Regions from separate parts of the Homo sapiens genome. Here region 2 is reported to be linked to region 1. Evidence: microRNA targets listed by miRTarBase, many of them from high-throughput screens and not tested one by one. Region 1 holds a microRNA gene; the other region holds the end of a gene's coding sequence.

Region 1 (5,173 bases):
AGACATTCAGTTCTGGACCCAGGTTAATTAAGAAGTGGACCAAATGCCCAAGCAAATTTCAATATTTAAGGCAAAACCCAAATTCTCTGGAAGTTCATTTTCCCCCTCTGGTTGTCAGGAAGCTAAAGAGTCTAGCCATTCCTTCCCCATCTCCACTGGCTTTCTTCCATGCCCCCTATAAAGTTTATCATCTCATGCAACTGTCTACCTACAGGATCCAAGTGGTACCCACTCCTGCAAATGATAGAAAGAAATCCACCCCTTCCCTTGTCATGACAAAAACTCCTTATCTTATCTCACTAGCAAAAAAAGTTGAAACCAAACATTTAAAATGTATTAATTACGCTTTATACATCCCCAGAGACAGCTGTGCTGATGAGAGCCAACTCAGTGTTTGGAAAAGGGAAACAAAAACTTTCAACTCATTCATCCCTCCATCCCATTTTGGGGGGTTAATCCTTTCATATTCTAATCTCTGGAGCTGGAACTAGACTTAGCCAGGAAAAATGACCAAAAAAAATGGCAGCAAATTGCCAGGACTGGGTGACTGGGTGAGAGGACCATTCCTGCAGAAGTCCACATAAAGAACATTGTGTGGCCACTTTTTCTTTAGACTAGGATGCTCTAACACAAGTCAAAGAAAACAAATGGGTCAGGCATGGTGCCTCACGCCTGTAATCCCAGCACTTTGGGAGGCCAAGGTGGGAGGATCACTTGAGACCAGGAGTTCAAGACCAGTCTAAGCAACATAGCAAGAGCTCGTCTCTACACAAAAAAAGTAGAAAAAATTACCAGACGTGGTGGCACACACCTGTAGCCTTGCTACTCAGGAGGCTGAGGTGGGAGGACTGCTTGAGTCGGGGAGGTTGAGGATGCAATGAGTCCTGATCGCACCGCTGCAATCCAGCCTAGGCAACTGAGGGAGAACTTGTTTCAATCAATCAATCATAAGAAAACACAAATCCACAAGGAAGCTTTCACTCTGCAAGCCTGTGTTTAAGCACTTCCCTATCTTTGCAGTCACACTTGCCACATACGTACATAGGCTCCTTCCCCAGCTCCACACCTCAGTCGCCATAGGTTGTTTTTTAACTCCCTGGGTTCCACAAACGTGTGGTGAGTAGCGCTCTGACATAGGGCCATGACACATCATCCCAACCAAACATAACAATTTGTGAACTGATTAATCCATTGCTCCCTACGTCATTGAAAAAAGGCTTTTTGCCGGGGGTTTCAAGAAGTCCACCAGTTCAGTGATATTCTTCCTCTCTCATTTCATTTCAGGATGCCTCTGTTATAATAAAGATGGGGGTGGTATCTCCTGGGAATACAGTAGGTTGGGAGGCAGGCTACGTCAAAATGCTGAGAGGCATTTCTAAGCATCATCATCATCAACATTTACAAGGCCTTCATACATGCCAAAGTTGTTCTACAACACATTAGGGTAGTTTTTGGTTCAAGCAGTGAATACATTATTGGCAAAATGTGTATTACTTTTAACTCTACACAAAGTGAATGAGGTAGGTAGGAAAAGCCCTACCCCCATTATAGGAAGAAAACTGAGGCTAGTGAAGCACAGGGACTTCCCCAAAACTTGTGCTTGTCAGAAAAACCTAGAGCTGGGTCTTCTGGCCCTTCCCCTCAATGAAAGCACAGCTTCGAATTCTTTCTCTGCCACTGACATGAGATTTGTCTCCAACCTAGCATCTCAAGTCCGTAATGAATTTTTCATCTGAAACATATGCCAACTGGGCCCAACTACCAACTGGGCTCTAGAGACGGCCCAGGAAGTCGGGATGAACGGGTGGAGTGGGACACCAGGGCGTTCCACCGGGCTGAAGACCGTCTGAGAGCTCTACCTCAGAGAGGCTGCCCAAAAGAGCTGGGACCGCAGCGAACTTTCTGGCCTTGGGTAGGACCCGCCGCGCCACCCTCGCCAGCTCAGATCCCAGGGGCCTCTGTAGGACCGCGGCGCTGGACTGGGCACTCCAAGTCAAGGGCTCCAGCCCGCATTAGCCAAGCGCCACCCACTTTCTCGTCTGCATTTTCTGCCCACACATACGCCAACGGCTGGATGCGCCCGCCGGGCCAGTGTGCCCCTGAGTTTGTGATCCCCAAAAGCAAAACACTGAACTCCGCGACGATTTCCACGCACCGCCGTCAGCTTCCGGACTCCGGCACCAGCAGCACTGGCCTGCGAGTTCCTTTTGCGCCTGCGCGTGGCGCTTGCGCAGTGGGAGAGGAGGGCGGGGCCGCAGTGGGCGCGGCCATAGTGGGCGCAGAAGTGGGTGGGATGAGTACGCCGCGGCAACTGCTGCCCTGAAACCCCGCGGGCAGGGAGACCACTCTAAACCACTGATTCAAGAAGAGGACGCTGCAGGGCACCGCCCTTCACTCAGGACAGCTGCCAACGCTTCGGGTCTGCGGATCGTGTTAGTGGAGACGAACCGATTCGTGGCGCCTGCCTGGGCCGATTCGCGGGGCGGGGCGGGGCGGGGCTGAGAGGTGTGGATATGTTAGCCCGAGGCGGGGCCCATCTGTGACGTCACGAAGTTACGTAATGGAATGCCTCTGTGGACCTCATTCAAGCCTTGTGTTCCAGCCCGAGGCCTCTGTGACGTCACGGTGTCTGCGGGAGGAGACCATGACGTCACAGAGGCTTCGCGCTCTGAGAGGTGGGACGGGACTCTTTTGAGCCGGCTATGGGGACACCAAGATTCTAGGGGATTTAGGATATCAGGTCCTCAGGTTCTGGGAGCTGAGGTCACGTCAGGGAGTCCCAGAGCATCACATTGCGTCCCTCCCCACAATGTGAGCAGTGAATTCCGCGGCAAGGAAGTACGCGGGAAAACATTTTTTAGTGGGTCCCTAACCCCTAACTACACTCTGGAAATAGGGGGTAGAACCTGAAACACTCTCTCCCAGGAAGAAGCTCCTGCAAGCTGTTCTTTTCCCTGGAAGCACCTGATATCTTACCGGAGACAGCATCTGGCAGTTCCGGGCTGTGCCCAGGGTCTCTGGCACCTTCCGCCCTCCCTGCCCAAGAGGCTGTCCTAGGCCAGATAGCTTCCCCAGCCGTACACAAAAACTTCAGGCCTAGCAGCTTTGAGAAGGGCCCCAGCTGAACTCCACCTGGCCAGCACCATCGGCCTCTTTTTCTCCTGAAAAATAGCCCCAGCAACGCTGAGCGCCACACAGTCACTGGGACCAGCGAAGCTTATTGTGATGGGGGTCTGGAGAGGAGACAAGAGCTGGGACTTTCTAGAGATGCATTGGGGGAAAAATTGGGGCAGGCAAGGAAACCCACCCAACATTTCTGACCCTCTCAATTGCACTTTTTGTGCAACCCACACTGAGTATGAGCAGGAAACTGGGGCACTAGTTTCCAACCACATCAACCAACCACATCACCTGGGAATTGTAGCCTGGATAGGGTCGGATGGCCCACAGGCCCAGCCGGCCTTTCCACCTGTAGTTACTGTTTCTGCACAGTCTATGAATCACTAGAACAAGCTGCAGGGAGACGTGATCTCTGAGTCCACCGGGATAACAGCAAACATCAGTAGAGCAAATAGGGGCATTCTGAGAGGGCCAGGGAGTTGCTGCGCATCATCCTGTCCCACCCTCCATTCCCCATCCCCAATTTAAAATTCTGCACTGGAAATCTGTTATTTTGAGGATGCACACTTGATACTGACATTCAGTTGCAGACCTTGGACTGGGTGGGTTTTCACAGTGCTGGAGGTGGGGTGACCCAAAAAGGATTAACGTGGCTGGCAAACCTCCCCATTTCACCGCATTTGTAGCTTCCTGAGGCCCCGGGAACTGCAGAGGCTCGATCTTCAGGGAGGTGGAATGATGTGTTCTGGGAGGTGGAGGGATGTCAGGGGCTAGGGAAGAGCAGCCATAGACAACCCCAAGGATAGCATCCCAGAAAGAGCCAAGGGACTAGGAAGGGCACCCTGTGTGTGTGTGTGTTCACCCATGCACTCTGGTTGTTTTGGAGCAACCATGGCCCGCAGCCTCCTGGGGCTTCATAAAGAAACCAAGGAAGATTCTGCAGTTGACCCTAGTACAAGCTATGGTCAGGCACAAACCACACCACAACCTGCGTGCGCCGCTTGGGCGCAGACCGTCTACACCACCCGCAAACCTACTGGCTAGCCCCACTTCCACGCACTCAGAGGCCCCAGTTCTCAGGAATGGGGGCATAATCCTGGGCCGCGCGCGACCTTGTGAACTGCTTGGAAGAAGGATTGGGATAGTGCCCAACTAATGAAGATCCCTCAGACCAGACCAGACTCAGCAGCGCCCTGCCCCTCATCCACAGTGGGTCCTGGGGCCAGTCAAGATTTTGGGACCAAACACATAGATGCTTGGTGGTTTCGCGAGGTTGCGGGCAAGACCCCTTGAGGTGCCAAGTCCTGGGCCGCCCCTCCAGGGCTGGCCAGCAGGGGGCAGCGTGGCTCTGAGCGTGGAGGCCAGGGCTGGTCCGCGCCGGCAGGGCCAGCCTCCAGTGCCCAGTTGGGTTCCCGGGCCTCGAAGTTCTAGCCCGCACAGGACTCAGGAGCGTTCCCGGAGGAGGTGGGGATGGGGTGGTGAAAGCCCAGAGCGTTTTAACTTCTGCATCCCCTGCCGCTTTCTCAGCCAGCAGGGCCCGGCTTGAGGCTGGGATTTTTGGTGCCTGCAGCAGGGAAGCTTATAGTCCAGTTGTCATCCGCGGCCGCCGCGCTCCGGGCGCTGAAGCTGGAGAGGCCATCCTGCGCTTGGGAAAGGCCGCGGGCGCCACCGCCTGCGCGGTCCCGCGGTCAGGGCGCTGGAGCTGGGGGGAGCCCCGCCTTGCCCCAAGGAGAAGAGCCCCGGCGGCCTGGCTTCTAACTGTGGGAAAACTAGACACCCCAGGGAAGGTTCAGCTTATGGAAGGCGGACTCGAATTTTTCCTCCTAAGCGTCCCGGGCCTCCCAGGGCGCCCGCCCCCACCATTCCTGACAAGGCTTTAAAATTGTAGGGAATCTTCGCGGGTGCAGAGCCTCGATCCTAGGAGGGGACAAGTCCCAAGCAGAGAATTGTGTCTGAGGGACCCTAAGGGAGGGAGTGATGTTGGTTTGGGGTTCCGGGGAGGCAGCGGTCATTGTGTATTTGCACCCGAGTGTTGAGACCCGGGGAACGGGAA
Region 2 (5,000 bases), not on the chromosome of region 1:
GCAAAGCGGAGGCCCGGGCTGCCCGCCGTCCCCCTTCATCTCCCCACGGACTGTACCAGGCAGCTGGGCCCCGCAGGACAGGCCGCAGCGGGTGGCCGGTTCTGTCCCGTCTTGGGGTTCTTGGTGTCCACGTCTTGTGGGCCGTGGGCTTCTACCTGCCCTTGGCCTGCAGTGCTTTGCTGGAGAAGGGACTCCCTGGTCCCCAGGGTGGACGGAGCCGCTGTCACCGCCCAGAGCTGGGCCGGGGAAGCACGGTGTGTTCTGCTTTTCTTTTCAGATTGTTGAAATTTCATTGTCATGATTTAATATATGGATTTTTTTATTTAAGAAAAAGACGAGGGACTCTTTGTCACGTGGGTTTGTTTTCTGTCTCCGTGCCTCCGGCTTCCCAAAGAGATCCAGGTCTTTGCGTTTCCAGGGCGTGGGGACCCCGGCCCCCTATGCCGCCACGCCGCCACACCGCCTCACCCTGGCTTCTGTGCTACTTGGCAGTTCCATTTCATTATTTATTTTTTGTGCTGCTTTTTATCATGATATAAATTATTGAAAACAGATCACATGTGGGCCCGTGTCTGGCCGCCGCCGCCCTGCCCCGTCCCTGCGGCCACCACCTAATTTATTGCCGTGCGTCCTGCTGCTGTGACTGCTTTTGTACCTTTGCAATAAAGAATTTTCTGGTTTCAGACCCTTTCGTTGCGTAGCTGGTGCTTTCAGCTGGGGCTTTCTTGGGCCAAGAACCACACCCCCCCCCCAATCCCAGGGGACCCTGCCTGTCCCTCACCGGGGTCAGGATCCGGGCACTACGTGTAAGTGGCTTTCCCGGACTGCTGGGCCGTGACCGTGAGGCTGGGACAGCCACGGGGGAGGTGCTGGTCAGGTGACCACGTCCTGGGCTCAGTCTCTGAGGGTCAGGCCGCAGTCCTGAGTGTCCCCATCTGCCCCACCCGGAGCCCCCTGTCCATGCAGCCTCTCCCTTCCAGTGGAAGGAGCAGAGAGCAGCACGGCTGTCAGTGTTCCCCTTCCCTGGGAGACATCTCGCCCAGCTTTGCTGGACTCTCAGAGGAGCCTGCAGGAAGCTGTGAGCAAGACAGGGTCTGTCTGGGAGCAGAGAGCAAAGCGCCCCTGCACAGTGGCCGGAAGCCCGTGGACTCCTCCGAAAAGCCACGGGCCTGCCCGCATGCCGTCCCCACCCCGCCCGGCCTTCCCCGTTTTTGGGGCTGAGCTGACCGAGGTGTGAACGCTGTTCAGTGCTGGACCACGCAGGGTGAAATCCCAACTCGAGTTTTTTGAGACAGTATCTTGCTTTGTCACCCAAGCTGGAGTGCAGGGGCGTGATCACAGTTCACTGCAGCCTCGACCTCCCAGGCTCAAGCAATCCTCCCATCTCAGCCTCCTGAGTAGCTGGGACCGCCGGCACGCACCACCACGCCCAGCTAATTTTTGTATTTTTTTTTTGTAGAGATGGGGTTTCACCATGTTGCCCAGGCTGGTCTCAGACTCCTGGGCTCAAGCAATCCACTCGCCTTGGCCTCCCCAAGTGCTGGAATTACAGGTGTGAGCCACTGCACCCGATCATAATCCCAACTCGCAGCATCTGTGTGGCCTGGGGCCAGTTCCCTCCTTCCCAGCCTTGCTTCCTGTGAGTTGGGTGTGGAGGTGAGTGTGCAACAGCTGGCACATAGCGCAGTGAGTGTTGAATCTGTGCTGGGGCCACAGCAGCCCGAGCTTGTCACTAGCAATGGCAGGGATGGCACTTTCCCCAGCTAAGTCAGACCTCCCTGCAGCCCACCCTGCGGCTCTGGGCCCAGCCTGCTCCTCCTGGGGGAGCCGACGGGTGTGAGTTGGGGGCACAGAGCCCCAGCCCTGTGTGGGGCTCCTGGAGGCTGCGGACAGACGGGGAAGCTGTGAAAGGAGACACCGCCCCGCCCGGCCATGCAGCCTGCACCCGGGCCAGGCCAGGGCCCCCAGGGCTTCCACCGTTTCTTGTGGATGCTGGGGATTTTCAGCTGGACCATCTCCCAGAGAAGGATACTGAGGCCAGGAGAGGCTAGAGAGCTTGGCGGGTGCGCTGGGCCCAGATACGCGGCTCCTGCCTGCCTCATGGCCTGCTCCTCTGTCGGGGCCTGTCACCGGGAAACCCCTTTTTTAGCAGCGATGACGACACTGGAACCACGCTAGTCTCCGTCCCTCCCGCTCACATGCGCCCACGCTCCCCCTCGAGGCAGGTTGAGCCCCGGCCTGGACCGCCCCACGCTGCCTTCCGTCCACGCAGAGCGGGCTCGGCCCTCAGGGCTTTCCTTCGAGTCGTGTTGGAAAGAAGCAGAAGCAGCCTCACCCGTGGGGCGGAGGCGTCTGAGGGTCAGGAGGCAGGGAGGAGAGAGGGCCTCTGTGGAGCCGGCTGCCTGGTGTCCAAGTCCCTGCTCTGTGACCTCAGGCAACTTGCTCCGTCTCTCTGGGCTCGGTCGCTGTCCCAGCTGGCTTGAGCGTTGAGCATGTCAGTTTCCTGGCACAGTCCTCGGCTGGTCTGAGGGGGCATTTGGCGGAAACTGACTTCTCCCCTGTCCTAAAGTGCAGGCCTGAGGTGTTGCTGACATAGGGGCTCAGCCCCTGACACCTCAGCCTCTGCCGCCCGGAGCCCAGGCGGTGTCTGGGTCTCCAGAAAGGGAGCCCTCGGCCACACACCCTCCAAACGCAGATTTGAGCAACTTGACCCCTATCGGGGTGGCCTTCCCCACGGCAAGGGCAGAGCAGGCCTAGAGCCCAGCCAGTGCCCCCAGCCTCCAGAAACTGCCCCTCGGCAGCAGGTCCCTGGGGACCTGCTGACAGAGTGAGACACGGGGGCCGCCTGGTGGGTCTATTCCTGTGGGGATCCAATAAGACAGGTGGGCGTCTTTGCAGCCGTGCAGGGAGGAGCTCAGCCTATCTTATCAGGCAGCCGGGCTGGGCCCTGCAGACCCACTGGCCTTGGATCCCCATGTCCTCAGCCCAGGAAGCAAGAGGCTGGGAGCTGGCCCTCTCTAGCCCGGACTCCACTGGTCTGTGCCCGCCCTGCTGAGTCCCTCGGAGACCCCAGGTCCCGCTGTTCCTGGTGACCGTGGCCATGGGTGGGGGGCAGCACGGGTGGGAGCCGCGGTCCCGGGGTGGTGCCCACTGGAGCTTCCTGTCTGCTCTCCACGCCCAGTGCCTGAGCCCCCCAGGCCTTGCCCACTTCTGCTGCCCCTGCCCCAGCCCCCACCCAACCTGTGCTGCGGGCCCCAGACACACAGAACTGACTGCCACCTGCAGGCCGGGTCACCGTACTGTCCCCTGACGGGCCCTGGGCCTGGGGGGCGCCCTGCAGTGACACCCCTCGCCCTGGGCCAGCCGTGTGTCCTCCCAGAAGCCCCCTTAGTCCCTGGGCGGCTACTGTTCTTGCGGCCGCGATTTCCGAGGCCACTTGCACGCCTCCAGCTTCCTGCGGGCAGGGCACGCGTCCGAGGCTCCTCAAACCCAGGGCCCCACCTGGCACGTGGAGGAAGAAGAGAAGGGCAGGAGGCAGGTGCCCAGGTGGGAGCCCCCTCTGTGCCCCCTGGGAGTGTCCCCCCCGCCCAGGTACTCAGGGCCCTGCCTTCGTGGCCTTGTCCGCTCGCCGCGGGTGGGGCTGGCACAAGGCCCGTTTTGGAGGAAGTGGAGGCTCCCAGGAGAAAGGCAGTGGCTGTGATCGCACAGCCCAGGCTCTGCCCTGCACTGCCCTGGACCACGAGGCTGCCCACCCCAGACAGGTGGGACCCCTTTCCCGCATGCAGACTCTGAGCAGCAGCCTCCTGTGACCCCCACCGCGTCCTGCTCCTCAGGCTCATGCCCTGCGGGAACAGAAGCCAAGACCCGGTAGAAAATCCAAGGTGTTTAAATATAAATAAGAGCGATTCCCACAGCCCCACGGTGCTGGCCAGCCTCACAGGTGCCCGCTGGTTCTGTGACCCATCCCAGGCACACGCTCCCCTGGCTGGGCGCCTGGCCAGGGCTCCCCTGTGGCTGGCGTGTGGAGACACGTGGGCCCTTCTCCACGTGCCCACGAGGGCCGTAGCAGGCTCCAAGGAGGCCCAGCCCCGGCCAGCCTGTGTGGACCCCGCCGGCCTGCGGCGCCCGGAGCTGCTGACTGTGTCAGAGCCCGGCTGCCCAGCGCCCCGGCGCCCCTCCCTCCAGCTGCCCAGCCTGGGATCCGTCCGCTGTCTGTCTCCTGAACCAGGGAGTCTGACCCACTCACAGCTCCCATGGGGTCCGTGCAGCCAAGGCCCCGCAGCCACACTCACTCTCCGCCCCACAGTGGCTCCTGGGGCTGATGGCTGGGTGATCCCAGGGGGTCCCCAGGCTCTTCCGATTGGCTCAGGTGCCCTCTCCTGCGGTGGCGGGCCCACCTGGGTGCCTGCCAGGGCCATCAGGTGCCCTGACCCCCTGGCTGGAGGGAGGATGGGAAGTGGGCTCCGAGGGCCTCACAGGTGGGCTCTCAGGAGAGGCCCCACCTTTGGCAGGAGTTGGTGGGTGGGGGGACCCTGTTCTTCCCCAGAGGCCTGGGCAGCCTGGGTCCCTACAGCACTGGCAGCCCAGGCCCCCCTACAGGTCCTCCGAGGGGATCAGCATCCGCTTCTCCAGGCTCCGGCTCTTCCTGCTCCCGCCGGAGCCGCCGCTGGGGTGGGTGCCGGGCCTGGGCGCCTCGTGCGTGGCCTGCTGCGTGTAGTGCTGGTAGGCGGGGGAGAAGTTGTGGATGGCGTCCTGCACGATGTCCTGGGGGCTCACTGTCTCCCTGATGCCGCTGGAGATGCTCTGCATGGGTGCCGGGGGGGCTGGGGGAGGGCAGTGTATGAGCCCCACCATCCCCCCTGCACTCCAGCTCCCCGGACAAGTCCCCTCCCAGGATGCCCAGGGCTGTAGCTCCTGCATGTCCAGGTCTGGCCTCGGCCAGCAGAGGGTGGCCCCAGACCCCTGGACCCCAGCCCAGCTTGCTCCACCCAGCACCGGGC

Evidence for each region. Region 1 holds the annotated microRNA hsa-miR-4757-5p (AGGCCUCUGUGACGUCACGGUGU, at 2,607-2,629, shown strand). A microRNA usually pairs through its seed, bases 2 to 8, with sites in the 3' UTR of a target mRNA and lowers its output. Matches are read on the target gene's strand: a 7mer-m8 pairs with bases 2 to 8, a 7mer-A1 pairs with bases 2 to 7 and ends in A, and an 8mer does both.
Region 2: miRTarBase lists TMEM184A as a target of hsa-miR-4757-5p. Seed matches in the 3' UTR shown: 7mer-m8 at 2,382-2,388 and 7mer-A1 at 1,526-1,532.

Annotation. Positions count from the first base shown.
Region 1 is chr2:19,345,833-19,351,005 of GRCh38, forward strand. It overlaps MIR4757 (microRNA 4757), which reads left to right and starts at 2,597; the gene lies at 2,597-2,673. It also overlaps a transcript of OSR1 not described here. RefSeq lists enhancers at 1,695-1,754, 1,905-2,174, 2,225-2,354, 4,678-4,747.
Region 2 is chr7:1,542,359-1,547,358 of GRCh38, forward strand. It overlaps TMEM184A (transmembrane protein 184A), which reads right to left. Exons shown (of 9, transcript NM_001097620.2): 9 at 1-4,823. The coding sequence ends at 4,594. MAFK (MAF bZIP transcription factor K) reads left to right here. Exons shown (of 3, transcript NM_002360.4): 3 at 1-685. Among named protein-coding and RNA genes, the nearest start is that of TMEM184A, 11 kb to the right of the region's middle. RefSeq lists an enhancer at 2,062-2,211.